Linked DNA regions of Homo sapiens: region 2 is linked to region 1. The links come from fine-mapping of genetic effects on gene expression. A gene starts in region 1. The other region holds a variant in brackets. All regions are shown on one strand. Distances are between the middles of the regions. Region 1 holds the start of PTGER3 (prostaglandin E receptor 3). Region 2 has its middle 130 kb from the start of CTH.

Region 1 (5,000 bases):
TTCCCTAAGCAAAGCATCCATTGGCCCTATGGAAATTCTCTTTAAAACAGCATAAAGCATGTTATTAGCCTTTTGGTCACTAGAGGGTGGTGTTGTTTCAGACCAACACAATTCACACTATATCCGTAGTAACTGACCAGAAAGTACCAACCAGAATCCAACTGCCAGCTTCACACTGTTACTCCACAAAACCTCACAGTCACTTGTTTACAAGGTGAATAGCTAAAGGCAGACAATATAGGATGAAGCAAAGTGCTGAAAGAAGAGAAATACCCAAATTATCTGAAATGCAACACATTTTGTTCATTGGCATAGAGGTTAGTGAGAGGCTAACAATTCTTTACTAATACATGCCCCGACGCTTACCATGCTTATCAAGTCCAATTGGCTACAGCAAGCACTTCAGTGGGAGAAGTAAAAGTTTCAAAGAAGTCAAATATTTGTGAATAAAAATGAGAATAGTTTTTGATGTAACTGGAAAAAGATAAGCCTTGCTTCCTTTGCTGTGTGAATGGTGATATGGTCTTAAATTTTAAATATTGAATTACACTAGAATTTTACTAACTATAGATGGTATAAACTTGATAGCCACTTTCATCCAAATGCTTTGGATAAAGCTTTGTCTAAGAATAACCTCAAATATTATTTTATTTTCAAATGATATTAGGCTAGAAAAATACTATCCCAAATACAGGTTTGAGATTAATTCAAAATAATAAGACAAAAGTTTACGGAAGATTTTAGAATCAAACCATTTCACCCTTCCTAGCTGTTGTTCCCATTGTAAACGTGACATTTTAGTCAGTAAAACGCAAAAGTGCAAAACATTTTTAAATGACAGCAAAACACAAAATGAAATTCATGTTGTGATTAATGCATCTTATTAAAATGGAGTTTAAGTTGCATTCTTGCTTTTCCTTCTTTAAAAAACATATAATGTTATAGTGATATTTTTTCAAACTCTCATACAGAATCAAGACAACAGCACATAAAGTATGCAGAGGGACATATCCCATTCTTACCTCTTAACAGTAATTTAAAAGTTAAGAACACCCATACAGAACATCAGCTAAGCTAGGAAAGGCAAAACTGATTGGGCTTGTTCTGAAAGTTGATCTGTGTCAATCAAAATAATGGTCTTTAGAGTGCTATATGATTAAGTCTAATTTCTTAAATATGAGGAAAAATGAACTTTGCAATTATTTTTAAAAATCTTTTCATCTCTTAGACAGTGTAAAAAGGCAAAAAGCAAAAAACACAAGACTTTCCCAAGATTAGGGGAAGATGATCTCACCGTTAATATTCATCTGCTGAGAGCAGTTATGGGACCCATGTCAGGAATACATGCTTCAAATAAGATGGGACTTGAGAATTGCTGAGAGACTTCAGGAACATTCTTTAACTTCATGGGGCCTCAGTTACCCCACCTTTAAGGGAAATAATAATAGCAATAGTACCTTGGAGGATTTCTGTGATAAAATGAGAAAATGCTTGTGAGAAGTACATAAAATATTGGCTTACTGAAAGATGTTACGAGGCAAGCAAGTATGCCTATTTTCATTCAATGTTTATTATTTCAAAGGCAAAGTTTCCATATAGATTAAGGCCTTCATAACATCTGAATACCTTTTCTAGTTCTTATTGTATGAAGATAAGAAGGATGGTTGGAGGCTTTGTAAGGAATACCTTTCTCTTCTGCTCCCCTCTCACTCCCATAGGCTGGGAGCAGTTGATTTCACTACCTCAGATATGCAAATTGATGCCACCTTCCTGTAGCCACTTTTGCCATAGCTGACCTTTTTGTTGGGTGGTGGGGAGGGGAGCGGGCAGGATTAGGCGAGGGGTAGTAGTTGGGATTTCTTGGTCTTGGAATTCAACCATCCGATGTATTTGTTTCCCTGTGTCTATTCCCTTAAGTCTACAGGCACTGTCTAGTAATTTTATAGTTTTCAGCGGCACCCCAGGGGACAGGACACCTTGGCCTTTTTATAATCACTCTAGAGTCACAAAGCAGAAAGGAAAAAAGTTAACGATCAGCTATGCAAAGGCTTGTGTGGATTGCTTAAGGACAGGCGATTTTCACTTTACCAGAGTTACTAAAGGACTTCAGGAGAAGGATCCCGTCCCTGTAGGAGCGTTTGTGGTTGAAGAAGCAGGAGGACGAGCGCTCAGGTGCGCCTCGGCAGTTTGCCTGGGGTCCGCAAGTCCAGTGCTACTTATTAGCTGCTTGCCGTCCACCGACACTTTAGCGGAGAACTGGAGGAGACCCCAGTGGGCTCCCGGTCCGGCCAGGAGCAGGGCGTTTCAGAGGAGACCGTCTGGGGCTTCCCAACCCAGGCGATCAGGATAGGCAACAGCCAAGAGAGGCGCTCAGTTGCTTTGCACCCTCCTCCCACCTCGGTTCTGTCCACACCCACGGGCGCCCCGCCCCCTCGGCCTTATAAAGGGGACTCGGCACCTCCGCGCGCCTCGCCACCAGAGGTTTCCCAGAGAGGAAGGCGTGGCTCCCTCCCGGGCCAGTGAGCCCTGGCGCCGCCGCGGCCGCGGTCCCAGCAGCGGAGTAGGGCGGCGGCTGCGCCCCGCACCATGGGGGGCAGCCCAGCCCCAGCCGCGGTAAACGCCGACCTCCGCCGCCGCCCGCGCCGCGTCTGCCCCCTCCCGCTGCGGCTCTCTGGACGCCATCCCCTCCTCACCTCGAAGCCAACATGAAGGAGACCCGGGGCTACGGAGGGGATGCCCCCTTCTGCACCCGCCTCAACCACTCCTACACAGGCATGTGGGCGCCCGAGCGTTCCGCCGAGGCGCGGGGCAACCTCACGCGCCCTCCAGGGTCTGGCGAGGATTGCGGATCGGTGTCCGTGGCCTTCCCGATCACCATGCTGCTCACTGGTTTCGTGGGCAACGCACTGGCCATGCTGCTCGTGTCGCGCAGCTACCGGCGCCGGGAGAGCAAGCGCAAGAAGTCCTTCCTGCTGTGCATCGGCTGGCTGGCGCTCACCGACCTGGTCGGGCAGCTTCTCACCACCCCGGTCGTCATCGTCGTGTACCTGTCCAAGCAGCGTTGGGAGCACATCGACCCGTCGGGGCGGCTCTGCACCTTTTTCGGGCTGACCATGACTGTTTTCGGGCTCTCCTCGTTGTTCATCGCCAGCGCCATGGCCGTCGAGCGGGCGCTGGCCATCAGGGCGCCGCACTGGTATGCGAGCCACATGAAGACGCGTGCCACCCGCGCTGTGCTGCTCGGCGTGTGGCTGGCCGTGCTCGCCTTCGCCCTGCTGCCGGTGCTGGGCGTGGGCCAGTACACCGTCCAGTGGCCCGGGACGTGGTGCTTCATCAGCACCGGGCGAGGGGGCAACGGGACTAGCTCTTCGCATAACTGGGGCAACCTTTTCTTCGCCTCTGCCTTTGCCTTCCTGGGGCTCTTGGCGCTGACAGTCACCTTTTCCTGCAACCTGGCCACCATTAAGGCCCTGGTGTCCCGCTGCCGGGCCAAGGCCACGGCATCTCAGTCCAGTGCCCAGTGGGGCCGCATCACGACCGAGACGGCCATTCAGCTTATGGGGATCATGTGCGTGCTGTCGGTCTGCTGGTCTCCGCTCCTGGTAGGTAGTTCCAGGGTTGGGGGAAGTCAGGATGCGTGTGCGAGTAAGCGGGAACCTAAGACTTTGCTAAGTGGCAGCACCCGCAGGGGTGTGTTTGCAACCGCAGAGCGCTGAAGTGTCCTTTCCTCCTGCCCGCGCGGTCTTGGTTACAGCTTCAGAGCTGAGCTCCTCACTTACTAGCTGAGCGCCTTCCAAGAGCCAGGATTCGCATTAGGCACTGTTTATGAGCACATAGAGATCACAGGGCTGCTCACATTCTAGTCGGGTAGGAGACAGGATGTGTCATTGAAATGACATATATGCAGAGCTAGAAGTTTGTCCTGAGTGCATTAAAAGCAGAATTGCTATGATAACTGTAGCCTGATATTGTGGGGTTTTTTTTTTTTTTTTTTTTTGAGACGGAGTCTCGCTCTGTCACCCAGGCTGGAGTACAGTGGCGCAGCCTCGGCTCACTGCAAGCTCCGCCTCCCGGGTTCACGCCATTCTCCTGCCTCAGCCTCTCCGAGTAGCTGGGACTACAGGCGCCCGCCACCACGCCCGGCTAATTTTTTTTTTTTATTTTTAGTAGAGACGGGGTTTCACCGTGGTCTCGATCTCCTGACCTCGTGATCCACCCGCCTCGGCCTCCCAAAGTGCTGGGATTACAAGCGTGAGCCACCGCGCCCGGCCGGGTTTTTTTTTTTTAATTTCAAATTCCTCTTTCACGTTAATAAGATTTTCAGTCTGCAACCCCATACAGTCACAGCCCTCCTGCAGCTTCTGAAAGACTGCGCGACCTATGGGTGCCTTCAAGGTTCATTCTTGATGAGGCAGGAGAATGAAAGATACGAGTTGCCTCCTCAGCCTTTCGCCATGGTGCTTGACCCTCTAGGAAGTGCCCGAACGACAGTCAGTGGGATCCGGAAGCTCAGCAGCTTCTTCAGGCCAGCATTTACTTACCCTTGTAGCACTCAAGCAGGGTTCGCTAATCCTGAGATAGGAGGTAGAGGTTTCTCCATGTCCTAGCTCCTCACACCAGAGCAATGCAGAGGAGCAAGGGATGTTTGCAGAGGCTCTTTGCCTAACACCTGCCCTTACGTGATATTTTTGAGGTTTTTTTGTCTGTGTTACTTTTAGCTAGAAATGTCCGTGTGTAAGTGCTGTTTACTAATTCCTGAAGAATGGATGCTTACTTAGGCCCTGGGGTGTCTGGGTTAATAGATGTTGCAGAAAGAGCGATATGGTCACTGTTACAAAGGTATAACCAACTATATGTATTATACAGTTGTGGAAAACCTTTGAAACACGTGAACGCAGTTTTTTTTCTTTCCTAATTATGGTAAAATATATTACATACAATTCAGTATTTTAACCATTATTATGTGTACAGTTCAGTGGCATTAGGCATTAAGTACGTTG
Region 2 (5,536 bases), 510 kb after region 1:
CTGTATATGTAAAGACAAATATGCTTTCTTCCATTTTTTTTGAAGGACATACACCTTTGGGTCTATATTCCATTTTCCTTCTCTTGAAACATAATATAGAGAAAGACTTCTCTACAATGAGAAACTGACAATGTACGCACAATATGAATGATAACTAGCATTTGACCTAGAATTGGAAAGTCAATTGCGAGTGATATGTCTACAGCAAACGAAAAAGGACTCACACTATCTAAAGGGGCACCTACTAAGTAGAGCTAGGCCATTATTATAATAGCATGCAAAAATTTAGACCCGGTGCTGCCAGATTATGATTAGGATCCAGATTTTTATATAAAATTTCCTGGGTTTGAACTGTTGGCTCAAAAAAAAAAAAAACTTACAAACAATATACAAAGTAAATATACCAGGTCTGTAATTCATTATAGATTTGGATAATGGACCATCAGATGGATAATTTTGCTCTGGGAAAAAACCCAGAAAGTTTCCATAATATCAAGTCATTGAAAGCACTACAAGAGCATAAGATGTGTGGACATGGGGCGGGGAGAAAATAAAACTGGTAAACCAGATTTGGGGGAGAAGAAAAATAGAGATTATATATGATATGCCCTGATGTCATATAAAGGTGTATTAGGTGTTTTAATTATATGGTGCAAGGATTCTTTGTATAGACTTCAGACTCATTTTAAATACTCTTCAAGTAATGGTAGCTATCAATACACATCAGTAAAAATAGGGCCATCTAGAGTAGTTGGCACCAATAAATACTAATGAGGGTCAATAAGTGTTTTGCAGGTCAAAATGCCAAGTCTTAACTTTTGATCTGCAAAATCTCCAAGGCTATGAATTAATTAGGAGCAAAAACATTGTGGGAGCAGAAGGAAGGGTGAACTATAGTTAGACTAATATAATTTTAAACCTTATAGCAGGATGGCTAAGAAGATAGGCTTTGAGGCCAGGCACAAAGGCTCATGCCTGTAATCCCAACAATTTGGGAGGCCAAAGTGGGAGGGTTGCTTGAGGCCAAGAGTCTGAGACCAGTGTGAACAACACAGCTAGATCCCTGTCTCTACAAAAAAATTGAAATATACGTATAGCCAGGCATGTGGAGGGTGCCTGTAGTCCCAGTTACTGGGGAAGCTTAGGTGGGAGGATCACTTGAGCCCAGGAACTCAGGGCTGCAATGAGCCGATATCTCAACACTATGCTCCTAGGCAACAGAACGAGGCCCTATTTCTAAAAAGAAGTAAAAGAAGAAAATAGGTTTTGTAATTAGGCAGATCTGATCTAAAAGCCAATACCAGCCACTGAATAGTTCTGTGAAATTGAATATGTTGTTTTATTTCTTTAAGCATCAATTTTTTCATCTGCAAAATCTCACTGATGATAGTCCCTATTTCATGAGTTGCTGTAATGTTTAAATAAATGCACAGATTAAACAGCACCATACATGTAAAGCACTGAGCAAAGTCGCTGGTACAAAATAAGATCTTCAACACCTTATATATAGAAAGACTTCTAAGAAGTCACGTGTACCTTTTGTATATATATTTTTATATACAATATACAGGAAAGCTACCATGTGCAAGGAAATGCCACCAGTTTTATTTTACTCACACCTAAAAATAATATAGTGTTATAATAATGTATGAGCTCAGCTCAAATTATTTTTTCTTGGTGAAATATTTGTAGTATATTCATTCTGTAGAACTTAGTTTTAACAGCAGGGTATTGATTTAATGTAAGTATTCCCTAGTTACACCAGAATTTTTTTCACTTTAGAAGAAAAATATGTGCCCCAAAGAATGGCATAGGTTTACTGTGTTTTAACCACAATCTCATTTTTGCATTGATTTAATAAACAAATTGTGTTTTATTCCAGTGTAGGATGAGAACCTGAATGGGAGCATTTGACAAATGTTGAGTCAAATGCCCCTTCAGGCCTGGAAATCAATCACTCATGTTTCTCTCACTGAGCAAACACAGACAAGGCAGAACATGCCTATAATCACAGGTCTCCCCTTCAGAGTCTCCCGAGCATAGAAGAGTACATTAGTCGTTGTCACTTTTTTGACATCTCAGAAATTGCTTCCAGTAGAAGACACTATTCCCTCTAAAACTCTTTTCTATG[T/G]TTCTTGCAGCATCATATAGGCAGGGACTATCTCTGTGCTGTTCACAACTATATCCCATCATTGATGAGTGCTCACCAAGCACTTGTGTGAATTAACCAAAGTCCAATCTTTCCATGTTAATTCTCCTGGTAGACCAGAGAAAAGTCAAAATGTCCAAAATAGCACTTAGAGTTAGCATCATCGATTTGAACAATTAATTACTTGTCAGTTTTGAGTAAAATATGCAAAAGCATTTCTTACGGTTCTTTTTCCCTCACAACAATGAGCACATATTACATATTCAACAAATACTGACTAAACCAAACTTAATTTCTAATCCTTTCCATTTTCTTTTGGTAATAATTAGCAAAGCCAATTTTATTCAAATATAATCTAAAGGGTACATAGCTTGTTCTTGAAAATAAAGTGGCAACGTAATGAATTCATGAGACTGGAAATCTTCAGGTCATGACAGCAGAGCTAATTCTAATAAAAGAGGCAGAGTACAAGTTTTGAGTTGAGAAAGAATAAAACATTCTTCTAGATTAATACTCATTTTCCTTAACTGTGAAGCAGATTGAAAAGAAAAGATAATGAGCCCATTTAGTTTAATGTCCAAAGTGATTGCATTACATAAGGGTACCAGAATATTCTATGACTGCAAAACTCATTCTGTCACCTATTTTACAGCCTTCAATGGCAACCTATTTTGAGCCATTTGAACAAGGGAATTAAGGTTCTATAGAGGAGAAAATGACAGCAATTCCAGTTATATAAATGTAACTAACTCAATAAAATACAATCTTTCCCCTAGAATTCATCAGCAGATCAGCACCTAGATGAAATAAATCCACAGAAAGACAGTTCCCATTAGTAACCTTGCCATTATAAAATAGGTGGCAGTATTCTTCATAATGTCAAAGGCTTGGCTATTTAAAAAAAAAAAAGCCAATGTCGCTTCAAAACAATAAGGTACAACTAAACAAAACCTGAACCCTGAAATTTAAGAAAAATGTTATTTATTAGGTACATTCCACCAATTCTTGTATGTATGTCTGAAACATACCATATGTGGTTCAACTCACACTAAGTAGGAATTTGGTTTCTGGTGTATACTTTCTACTTTATTTCTCTATGAGCAATGTATTATTTTGAATTAAATATACATATGTACATTTATATTTAATTTAGCCTTCATTATTTTGTTTTGACTTTGTAGTAGGACAAGCATGCTCAAGAAAATGCAGTAGGAAATTTATTTACTACATAAGCCATGTGAATCTCAATTGTGACAATATTTTCTTATTTCTCAGAATGCAAGCTAATAGTGGAAAGTAAAGAAAGGAATACATCTATATGATTAGGCAACATGATAACAGAGACTAAACATATGTGGAAAAATTCTGGAACCCATCTCTTCGAATGCGCCTCTCTACATTCTTTCCACCTATGACAGAGAATTCATAAGACAATATTTTATGTATACAAAATTTTATAAATACAGTCTAAATCTTAGTAAAGAACTAGCTTTTGCTTTTGTTGATTCTCTCTGGTTCCTAGTTCATTCATTTATCTTATCTTTTTTCTTTCCTCTTGTCAATTTTCTGTAGTTTTTTATGTTAATGCTTAACCCAATTATTTTCAAATTAAGCTGCAAATGAACCTCTACATAACTTTTTTTGGCAACTTTGATGAGTAAAACTTTCATCATCATTCAACTCTAAATAGGTTGCTATTTCCATTGTCATTTATTCTTTAACTCTCATGTAGCAGTACTTTTTTAGTTTACAATACAGAGAGTCTTTCTAAATGGCTTTCTATTCTTGATTTCGAATTTAATGTACTGTGTTCAGAGAGCACACTCTGACCTTCATAGGGACTTCTTTTGAGACCTAACACCTGGACAATGTTTATAACTTTTTCATGTATCCTTAAAAAAGAATGCATATTTTCTATTTTGAGGTCCAGGACAAGCCATTAGTTTTGTTCAAGATCATTACACTATTACTTGGTCTACTAACTTCTGATAAAGGTTTATTAAAAATATCCTATTATGATTATGAATTTGTCAAATTTTCTTATAATTATGTGGAATAAGATAATTATAAGATAAATTTGACAAATTCATAATCACAATGGTTTGGTTTTATAGATAAACATATACTTATATTTATATTTAATAAATATATATTATATAAATACATATATTTATATCAATATATACTTACATTTAAATTTATATAAATATATAAATTTTTTTTTGAGACTTAGTCTTGCTCTGTTGTCCAGGCTGGAGTGCAGTGGCATGAGCTCGGCTCACTACAACCTCTGCCTACTGGGTTCAAGCGATTCTCCTGCCTCAGCCTCCCGAGTAGCTGGAATTAAAGGCACCCGCCATCACGCCGAGCAAATTTTTGTATTTTTAGTAAAGATGAGATTTCACCATGTTGGCCAGGCTGGTCTCGAACTCCTGACCTCAAGTGATTCACCTACCTCGGCCTCCCAAAATGCTGAGATTACAGGCATGAGCCACTGCCCAATCGGTTTTATTTATGTTGAGACAATATTGGGTACATAGAAATTTATAATTTTTATATCAAAAATTATTATTATTATGTAGTGGCCTTTATGTCTACTAATGTCTTTTGCCATATTTTCTACTTTGTCTTGTTTTACTTTGCCAGTTCTCATTTGGTTATAATTTTCTTGATATATATTTTAGTTATTCTTTTATTTGTTATCTTTCTTTGGGGTTTAATTTCATATTTGGCTCTTGGATATATCATATAGCTGAATTTTGTAATATTTGCCCAACCGAGTTATCTTTTAATAGTGATAATCTATACACATTTATTGGATATTCATGTGTAACAAAATGATCATCTTTCCACCATTTTTGTTTTTGTTTTCATTTTCCTCCTTGGCTGAATTCTGTAGGATTGATAGTTTTAGATAATAATAATTAACATTGATTGAGCATTGAGTAGGGCTAGATATTTTATCGGCTTTACACATATGATTTTATTTAATCTTCACAACAACTCTGTAAAGGAAGAATCTATTAATGTCTCCACTGTATATTTAAGGAATCTGAGGCACTAAGAGCCTAAGTAACTTGATCCAGTTTTATGACCAGTAAGAGGTAGAGATAGAATCGAAATGGGCAGCAAAATTCTAGAAATTATGCTCTTAACCAACATATTGTACTCTTCTTAAAGTACCTTCTACAATGATTTTAAGTGACTTTTTGTTTTCAAAAAAATTTATACTTACATCCATAAGTGTTTCCAAAACTTTAGAATCTGACATCAACAATGGAAAATAAGCAAAAACTTTCTGAAAACCTGCTATATTATTATTTTTCTATTTATTGCCTAAAACTGAAAAGAAATTACTTGAGGAAAAAATCAACACAAATAATGTTC

The links. PIP is the estimated chance that this variant, and not a neighbour inherited with it, causes the effect. A credible set is the group of variants that fine-mapping cannot tell apart.
Region 2: its variant is the best candidate, but not a certain one, in a credible set for the expression of PTGER3 in prefrontal cortex (GTEx, PIP 0.51).

Annotation. Positions count from the first base shown.
Region 1 is chr1:71,045,283-71,050,282 of GRCh38, reverse strand. PTGER3 (prostaglandin E receptor 3) reads left to right here and starts at 2,467. Exons shown (of 4, transcript NM_198719.2): 1 at 2,467-3,602. The coding sequence starts at 2,706. It overlaps ZRANB2-AS1 (ZRANB2 antisense RNA 1), which reads right to left and starts at 3,777. Exons shown (of 3, transcript NR_038420.1): 1 at 2,694-3,777; 2 at 1,295-1,469. RefSeq lists an enhancer at 2,470-3,053.
Region 2 is chr1:70,539,506-70,545,041 of GRCh38, reverse strand. No RefSeq gene overlaps it. Among named protein-coding and RNA genes, the nearest start is that of CTH, 130 kb to the right of the region's middle. The variant T/G (reference allele first, on the strand shown) is at 2,132.